Linked DNA regions of Homo sapiens: regions 1 and 2 are each reported to be linked to region 3. Evidence: microRNA targets listed by miRTarBase, many of them from high-throughput screens and not tested one by one. Region 3 holds a microRNA gene; each other region holds the end of a gene's coding sequence.

Region 1 (3,000 bases), not on the chromosome of region 3:
AGATGTAGCATCACTTTACCACTCTTTAGAGCCTTCCCAATTTTTCATTAGGGGAAATGAACATCCTTATATACTAGTTTTTTTGCTGAATCATTTCCCTATGCTAGGTTGCTAGTATATTACCAATTCAGAAGTTATAAACTTGTAAAGGATTTATTACCAATGTTTCCAGAAAGATTTCAACAATATACCCTCCAATAGAATGTAAGAGTGCTTCCTCATTAAATCCTTACTGGTATTAAGTTTAAATAAGAAGAATCACAAAAGTAGCAGGTGAAATGACCCAATAACTTAAAATTTCTCTTTCTTGAGTTAATGGTTGGGTTGGGCCTCTTTCAAGTAGTTACTGACATCTATTTTTTTTTCTGAGTTGACCATATTATTTGCCCACTGTTTGCATTTTTTCTTCCTACTGATTTGTAAAAGTTATTTATATAAAAGTTTTTTTTTTCTTTTTCCTTTAGAAGTGAAATCAAGGCTTAATTTATCTGGTTAAGTTTTATAATTTTCATTTTTTTTTTTTTTTTTTAAGAGACAGGGTCTTGTTCTGTCATCCAGGCTGGAGCGCAGCAGCACGATTGTAGCTCACTGCAGTCTCCAATTCCTGGGCTCAAGCAATCTTCATGCTTCAGCTTTCCTAATAGCTAGGACTGCAGGCATGTGTCACCAGGCCATGCTTTTATAATTTTTTGTAGAAATGGGATCTATGTTGCGCAGGCTGTCTTGCACTCCTGGCCTCAAGTGATCCTCCTGCCTGGGCCTCCCAAACCACTGGAATTGCAAGTGTGAGCCACGACACCTGGCCTATCTGCTGGTTAAGTTCTTTAAACAGACCAGGTAAAATGGAGGTTTTAATATCTAGATTCTCATGTATATCTGTGTAGTTTTATTAATGTCCTCTCCTCTTGTTCCTCATTGCTCTTTCATAGTAGTAACAAGAGAAAGCTCACTTCAGTCATTTCAAATCCAAATGTAACAATGCAGAATTAAAAAATGGAAACAAGCTCTTGGAATTAATCATTTATCACAAAATGAACAATTTCAATTCTTAAACATACAATCACTTTTTTTCATACTAACTCAAAATGAGTAAACAGAATTTTATTCAAACTTTACAAATATCATTTACATTTAGCCTGAGATTAAACATGAGAAAGTTCAACCTGAAGTTAGACTTCGTTGCCCAGTTAAGCATCTGAAAATAAAGCTGAGAATGAACATACATCATCAAACAAAGCATTCCAATGAAGTCTGGCAATGAATTGTGACACAAACTGAACTTTAATTTGCTCTGGTCCACATGATCTTCAGAGCCTAAAAGTTCCTGTTTTTTAATAATGATGGAAAAATATCTGCAAATGATAAATGCATGAAGGTATGACCAGATGCAAAATTTTAGTTCAACATTTCTATAGCAGCTGCTTTAGGTGACCATTAAAAAACAACTCCCCAATCCTTACTGTTCAACATGTACTTGAAAACATGCAGCAGCATGGTACAGTTTATTAAATTTATAAATATCAGTACCTGTAATAAAATATAAAATACTGACTATTCCTTTTTCAAATATTAAGTCTCTGAATGCTTCATTCATCCTTTGGTTTCAAACCCATACAATGCACTCATATTACATTGTAGATTTCGAATGGAGACAGAACACTGTACATCTGTTGGGGAAGGTGGGGTGCTGTAGGAATACCAAAGCACTACATCATAGAAAGTAAACGTTGAAGCAAAAATACTTTCTGAATATATACTGTACATTATGTAAACACACATTCAGAATAAGAATCAACACAGGCCAAAATATTGTTTTCTAGGAAACCAGAATCTTCTTTCTTTTAAATCACACACTGAAGATGCTTTTTTGTTAAGAAAAAGAATGAAGTCTGTTCCTGTATTTGCTTATGTGCTTAGATATCTTGGAAATGAGTAATTATTACATTCATTTGCTAACGGTTTATCCTCTGCTTAGTTGGCTGGCTGTTGCAAACACGGAATACAGAACTATTTCAGTCCCTGTTTTTCATTTAATACTAGTTAAGTAATATATAATTAATTCATCTTTATTAATCCATTATTAGTAATATAAATAGATTAAGTGAAGCAGTGAATTTCAAAATTTGTGCAGGGGAAACTAGTTGATAATTTGTTTCCAATAAGGCTGGTAGCAATTAATTACTACAAAGTTTGTCCAAGCTAGTATTGAACCCCTGATTTAGCAGGCTGAATCAAAGTGTATAGTTAGGTACTTCTAATTCCTCTATTACTGTGCAAATCTAGAATTTCCTATGTAAAAGACAGTGCTGGCAGCATCAAAGCCCTGTAATAGTATGAAATAGTGATTAGGATTTGAAATGAAGAGATATTATATGAAGACATGTGAATGTCTTAATGATGGTATCATAGCAACGGCCTCAGAATTCCCTTACTGAAACAGAAACTAAGACAAATCATTATTCAATAATCTTCTGAGCCAAAAGCCTAAGTTGGAAGCAAGTGATAAAAACACAAAACCAAAGATGCATTTTCTATGACCATATGCAAGAATTTTAAGCTTTATATCAACATTCTGTACCAGCACCAGCCCCTCTGAAAGGAAAAAGTGTAGTCATGACTGTCCATCTCTTTTCAAAGCTTCCAGTCTTTGAAGCAGTGCGTTTCCAAATGCTTCTCGGTAGGCGGGGCTGAGTGTATCCAACAAGGAGTAGACTGTTTCATGGTAGGGAGTCTGTAAATGATCATCTACCTGGTCAAAAGCATAGCCTACCACCTACAAGAGAAATGCAACAGTGAATTCATTAGTTTTCATGTTGGTACAGAAAGCAAAATCCAAGTGTTTATGTGAGTAATCATCCTTTCAAAAAAATAAATTATTTCTTTTCCTAGCCACTAGACCACCAGATACATGGGTAACTGAGTGAAACTATTTCTCAAAGTCAGAGTATACACATTTTAAATACAACCTTTAATACTTCAGCAACTTATAATGTATAACAC
Region 2 (3,000 bases), not on the chromosome of region 3:
AAGGTTCCTTTAGCCACTCAGCACCTGCATAGGCCCACACAATGGGCAGGCTTCAGGGACACACTCCAAGGCTGGTCAGAGGCTCAGAGATGGGACACCACGAGGGATTAGGCACCAGCTAGATAAGAGCCCTGGAGAAATCTAGTCCACAGAGGTTGGAGATTAGCTCCAAACCACTGGAGAGCTGGGGGAAGGGCAAGGGCTAGAACCCACAACTTCTCACCATCTGGTCTAGTGCTCTTCACTGTGGAAGCTGTTTGGTTACACAGATGAGGGGAGTGGGCTGAAAGAAATTCAGCATCCTAACCCTGGGTGACCTTCTCATCTGTGGACTTTCCAAGGAACCTCTGAACACAGTTGGGGAAAGGAAAGACAGGTGGAGAGAAAGACCTCACGCAAAGCCTTTGAGGTGAGGAATTTAGAGAGCTGGGCTGCCTGTGCTCTGCCACCATCTTGCTATTTGTTGACACAATGCATGTCGGGAGAACTGGACACCCTTTGGACCCTCCAGCATTGAGAAGTATGGCTGGAATCCCTGTTATTTATCAGCTGACTGGGATGGCATAAACCCCAACCAGCTCCCTGTTCCCTCAGATTAGGAACAGGACCCAGGAGTTAGGCTGGAGCCCAGGCAGAGCCAATCATGGGGAGAAGCTGACAACTGCCCCTTCCTTCCTCCACCTACGCAGAGGAAGTTACTCACAAAGCAAGTCGATTCAGCCTTGGATTTAAACCTACTCATTGAGGGATTTACGTTGGAACTCCTGGGGAATTATCTAGAATTAGTTGCAAGAGTGGAAAGAGGGCGTCAGGCAGGCTGGCAGGGCAAACTTTCACCTCATTCACTTCTCCATCCCTTGGCCACTTACCCAGCCTTTTCTGAGTCTGCCATATGCCAGGCACTGGAGGGAGGTAGCTGGCCACAAGCTTGGCACTCAGGCTTACTGGAACCAAGGGCCTTATGCTTTAAGGGACTCTTGGGATCATCTAACTCAGCTCACTCTTCACAGGTGAGGAATCTGAGGTTCAAGTAGAGCTCTTTGCCTAGTGCGATGGCAGTGAAGGGCCCTGAGTGGGCAGATACTCTCACCACCTCCCTATGAGGCCTGCACTAAGGAATTCTCTTGCCGGTTAGCTTAGGGAAACCCCTCAGTTGGAAAGCAACATTCTGTATCGTCATGCCTATAGCTGCACCTCCACCACCATCACCCTGTTGTTCATTTACAAATAAATCCCAATGAAGCAGGCTGGGTCCCCACCCAAGGGTATTCCTACCTTATCCCAATTCACCAACAACATGAAGAAGTGCTTTTCTCCTTTTACTATTTTTATTTTACACTATAAAAAACAAGAACAACAACAACAACCAGTAACATACTGCTTTTCTTCACATTCACACGGGTCTTAGAAAATTATTGCCTTTTCCCCTGGAGAAATAACTAACAGACAAAAAGAAAAAAAAAGTAGTACCACGTTGCAAAATCTGCAAATCCCAGAAGTCCACAGCTTGAAGACAACCTCCAGGGGCAGGGAGGAAAACAATTGTCACAAGAGACATAAGCACACAGAAGGACAGGCAGCTGAGGAAACCAGTTTGCACCGCCACTGACCCAGGATACCTAGCAAGTACCCTTCTCCTCCTGGAATCTACTGCTACCACCTCGAAGGTATGACTTTTTTGGTCTATGATCTGAAGAACTCTTTTCCCAAAGGAAGAGTTGCTCTGAGAAGAGGTGGAATGAGACAAGTTCAAGTATGACTAAGAATCATGCCAAAGTCCAAGGTCAGTGAAGAACCCATGGCAAAAAAAATCCAGAAAAGCCAACATCTTGCTACTTCAACCAACTACCTCATTGGACCCAAGAGGGTGTCTACACAACATTTCAGGGTTCAAATCAGGATGCTGATCATGTCCCTACAAACCCTGTAGGGTTACTTTCCCAACTAGACGGTGATCAGCTTATGCCCCGAAGCAACAGAGACAGACATTGAAACTGCCAAAGTTCAAAAAATAAGGTGGAAATTGTGCTTCCTTCAAAATGAATTGGCTTCATAACTGCCTTTTCTCCTGGTCCAGCAACTTCTTTCTCCCACGTTGCTGCAGGTATTTATTGCCTTATGCTTGAAATGAAAAGGCGAACTCTGAGGTGCAAGGACTGGGCAGTCCCAAGAGGGCAGGGGTCTGGAAGTACAGTAGTCAGCACATGCTGTGCTCCCGTAATGGCTTGGCCTTCCTTCAGTCCCGAGAACCTACCCTGAGGTCCGTCTGAAGTTCATTTGCAAGCCTGGTGACCACTCACTATCTCACTGGGGCAGCATGACAGAATGAGGTCTTCAGTATTGCACAGGTATGAAATGTCCATGAGTCTTAAAAACAAAAATCACAGTTGCTCTTGGGGCTGGGCCGATTCCTCCATCCCAGTTTTAGCAGGATGTGGCCGTTGCCACAGGGCTTCTGCTGAGCTCTGAGACTGTTGAGTGGGTAGGCACCGGTGCCAGCACCGAGGCAGGGAATGTGCAGTAGGCACCCTGCATGTCAGGGCTCAGTGTCTGCAAATGGCCTATCAGTGAAGAGCCTGCTGCCTCCCCTTGGCAGGAGGGAGGCTGGGGGTTGGGCGTGGAGGGCAGGATCTCAGATTCGTACTGCAGGAGCTGGCCCATGAAGCCAAAGTTGGGCGAGACCATGCTCCTCCTCTGCTTGATGTAATCGAAGGCCTCCTTCAGGCGGAACTGCTTGGTCTTCATAAGGTAAGCCATGCAGATGGTGGGTGAACGGGAGATCCCAGCCTCACAGTGGACCAGGACCTTGCCTCCCTTTTCCCTGACACAGTCTGGAAGGAAGAAAAGATGGTGGGAGTGAGTTGGGATTAGAATCTAAGGGCAATGGCAAAACACAAGAATCAAACACTGGAGTAACCTAGATATGAAACTGTTGTGCCTGCCTAAGAGCCACGGCCCTACACTACACTTCTGCCAGTCTTTAATCCCCACTGGTGAGGA
Region 3 (3,172 bases):
GTCTCTGAAAGGAGTGTGGTAGTCCCAGGCTCATGGGCTGGTTGCGGGGGTAGGGGGGAAGGATCATGCCCCCCGGCCCCCAGCTCTGGTCTCCCTCCAAGAGTTTTCACATCGGTTGTCTTAGTGGAACCCCCATTGAATGGATGAGCAAACTGAGGTGTGAAGCCACCTGCCCATCCAGTTATTTATAAAGACATGCACCAGGCCAGGGAGTGGTGGCTCATGCCTGTCATCCCAACAGTTTGGGAGGCCAAGACAGGCGGATCACCTGAGGTCAAGAGTTCGAGACCAGCCTGGCTAACATGGTGAAACCCTGTCTCTACTAAAAATACACACACACACACACACACACACAAAATTAGCTGGGCATGGTGGCGGGTGCCTGTGATCCCAGCTACTCAGGAGGCTGAGGCAGAAGAATTGCTTGAACCCAGGAGGCAGAGGTTGCGGTGAGCCAAGATCAAGCCACTGCACTCCAGCCTGGGAAACAGAGTAAGACTCTGTCTCAAAACAACAACAACAAAAAGCACCACATCTGCCTCCTTCTTCTAGTTACTGGGGCCCCCTGAGGCTAGGTGCTGGGGAGGGAGCCCTTTCCTGGCGGGGGCTGCAGAGGGGTGAGAAAGAACCCTCTGGAGTTGGGAGGTGGGGGATAGCAAGTTGGGCTGTTAGGAGGGGACCCCTAGTACCTACAGGTCTTCAGTGTCCTCCCCGAGATGAGATCTCAGCTCAGTCCCAGGAGGGGAGGGTGTGCTCAGGACTTGGACACAGAGGAGAGACGCTGTGCCGCTTACACAGCTCATCCACCCATCCATTCATTTAAGAAACTTTTATTGGCCAGGCACTGTGGCTCATTTTGAGAGGCCGAGGAGGATTGCTTGAACCTAGGAGTTGGAGACCAGCCTGGGCAACGTTTTGAGACCCTGTTCCTACAAAAACACTTTTTCGAAATAAGCTAGGTGTGGTGGTGCGTGCCCGTGGTTCCGGCTACTGGGGAGGCTGAGGCGGGAGGATCAACGCTTGACTCCAGTTATTAGAGGCTGCAGTGAGCTAAGGTCACACCATTGCACTCCAGCCTGGGTGACAAGAGCGAGATCCTGTCTCTAATTTAAAAAACAAAACTATGGAGCACTCCACGGAGCAGAACTTACCACCCACATTTCAGAAAGGGGTTTTAGGCCAGGCAAAGTGGCTCATGCCTGTAATCCCAGCACTTTGGGAGGCCGAGGGGGGAGGATTACTTGAGGTCAGGAGTTTGAGACCAGCCTGGCCAACACAGTGAAATCTCGTCTCTACTAAAAATACAAAAATTAGCCCACTGTGGTGGCAGATGCCTGTAATCCCAGCTACTTGGGAGGCTGAGGCCAGAGAATCACTCAAACCCTGGAGGCAGAGGTTGCAGTGAGCTGAGATTGGGCCACTGCACTCCAGCCTAGGCAACAGAGTGAGACTCTGTCTTAAAAAAAAAAAAAAAAGGGGATTTTAGCTGCCCTGCCCCAGCCTGTTTACCCCCAACCCTCTAATATTTAGTCCCAAATCCAGCCAGAGCCCATCCAGATTCCAGACACCAGCTCTCCTCTCCAAAGAGGAGTGGTTGGGGTCAGGGCAAAAAACAGGCTGAGTGACTGTGGCGGTGGGGGGTCCTGTCCCCAGTCCCCATTCCCCTTAAGCCGTGTCTGGCCCAGCCACAGTGACATTCATCCCCCGGTGGGTCTGGCCTCAGTCCTCACAACCCACCGACAACAATGAATGTTGATTGTGACCTCGGCTGTGGCCTAGGGGAGGGGACGTGCCCAGGCTGGATTGGGGGCTCCCCAGGCCCCCCTAGATCTGGAAGGTCAGAGTCACCGGCAGGAGGATGGCAATTCCAGGCCTCAGGGTCCACTCAACGGTCGATGGTTTGCCTGAGCTGCCCAAACTCACCGACAGGTTGAATGTTCCCCCAAACCCTTGGCAAATTTTCCGGGACCTGGAGTCGGGGGTGGGGTAGGTGGCAGGGAACCAGAGAGCATGAAGAGGGAGAGGAGGAGAGAGTAAGGAACCCCTTTTCTCTCATGAAATAAACAAACGCTTTTCAGGTGCTGTTTGCACCTAGATCTGGGAAAAACACAAGGCAAATATAAATGCTAGTAAATAAAATGTAGCCTTTGCTATGGGGATGGAGATGTAGCAGTGCAGGGGAGTGCTGGCCTCAAGCCCGCTCCTTAAGTAATTCACAAAGTGATCCTGGAGGTGCAGATTACCCCCCTTTGTCAACTGGGGAGACTGAGGCCAAAGGCCACTGCTAGTCCGAGGTGGAGGAGGCATTCCAAGTGTTCCCGGGAAGTCTGGCAACGGAGGATCCTGGCCCCGAGGGCATTGATGCAACGTGGAGATAAACAAGCCATTTTAATACAATGTAATACGTTCTGGGAGCTTCACTGAGTTCCGGGCACGATGGTTTAGGAATCACAACAGCGTGAGTGGAGCGCTTGGGGGTGGGGGGTCGTCAGGTCTCTCCACTTTACAAGTGCACTGGGGCCCCACTAGACAGGGGAGAGGCAGGAGGTTCAGAGAGGGCGCCGCTCGCCCCGCGTGCGCGGTCACACAGCATCTGAACTCGGGCACTTCCGGAGGGAGTCCGCGCAGCCACGTGGGGGCTGCCCCTTGGGCCTCAAAACCGGCTGCGGCGCCCCCTCTCCATTTCCTCATCCCTCAAATGACCCCCAGTCCCTTCCTCCAGTGATCGCACAGAGTTCGGCGACCACCCCCCCGCCCCGGGTGCCCCCAGGCCTACAGGTACGCACCCCTATCTCCCACCCCCCGCAAGCCAAGCAGTGACGACCAGGGATGGGCGAGCGCGCCTTCGCCCCTGACCTGGGTCTGCGGACGGCCTAGGAAGGTGCACCCGGCATGGCCGGGTGCTGCGGCTCAGGCCTGTAATTCAGTATTTTGGGAGGCTGAGGCGGGAGGATCTTTTGAGCCCAGGAGATGGAGACCAACCTGAGCAACATAGCGAGATACCTGTCCCTACAAAAAAATTAGCTGGGTGTGGTGTAGTGAGCCTGTAGTCTTAGCTACTTAGGAGGCTGAGATGGGAGGATCGCTTGGACCCCAAGAGTTCGAGGCTCGAGGCTGCAGTGAGCCGTGATCGCGCCACTGTATTCCAGCCTGGGTCACAGGACGAGACCCC

What was found. Region 3 holds the annotated microRNA hsa-miR-181c-5p (AACAUUCAACCUGUCGGUGAGU, at 1,918-1,939, opposite strand). A microRNA usually pairs through its seed, bases 2 to 8, with sites in the 3' UTR of a target mRNA and lowers its output. Matches are read on the target gene's strand: a 7mer-m8 pairs with bases 2 to 8, a 7mer-A1 pairs with bases 2 to 7 and ends in A, and an 8mer does both.
Region 1: the mRNA of GSKIP is a reported target of hsa-miR-181c-5p. Seed matches in the 3' UTR shown: 8mer at 1,941-1,948 and 7mer-m8 at 1,776-1,782.
Region 2: the mRNA of DUSP5 is a reported target of hsa-miR-181c-5p. Seed matches in the 3' UTR shown: 7mer-m8 at 1,390-1,396.

What each region holds. Positions count from the first base shown.
Region 1 is chr14:96,385,296-96,388,295 of GRCh38, reverse strand. GSKIP (GSK3B interacting protein) reads right to left here. Exons shown (of 4, transcript NM_016472.5): 4 at 1,008-2,773. The coding sequence ends at 2,612. Among named protein-coding and RNA genes, the nearest start is that of AK7, 5.3 kb to the left of the region's middle.
Region 2 is chr10:110,509,851-110,512,850 of GRCh38, reverse strand. DUSP5 (dual specificity phosphatase 5) reads right to left here. Exons shown (of 4, transcript NM_004419.4): 4 at 1,318-2,831. The coding sequence ends at 2,425. Among named protein-coding and RNA genes, the nearest start is that of DUSP5, 13 kb to the right of the region's middle. RefSeq lists enhancers at 1-19, 100-149, 580-659.
Region 3 is chr19:13,873,492-13,876,663 of GRCh38, reverse strand. MIR181C (microRNA 181c) reads right to left here and starts at 1,965; the gene lies at 1,856-1,965. It overlaps MIR181D (microRNA 181d), which reads right to left and starts at 1,789; the gene lies at 1,653-1,789. It also overlaps a transcript of NANOS3 not described here.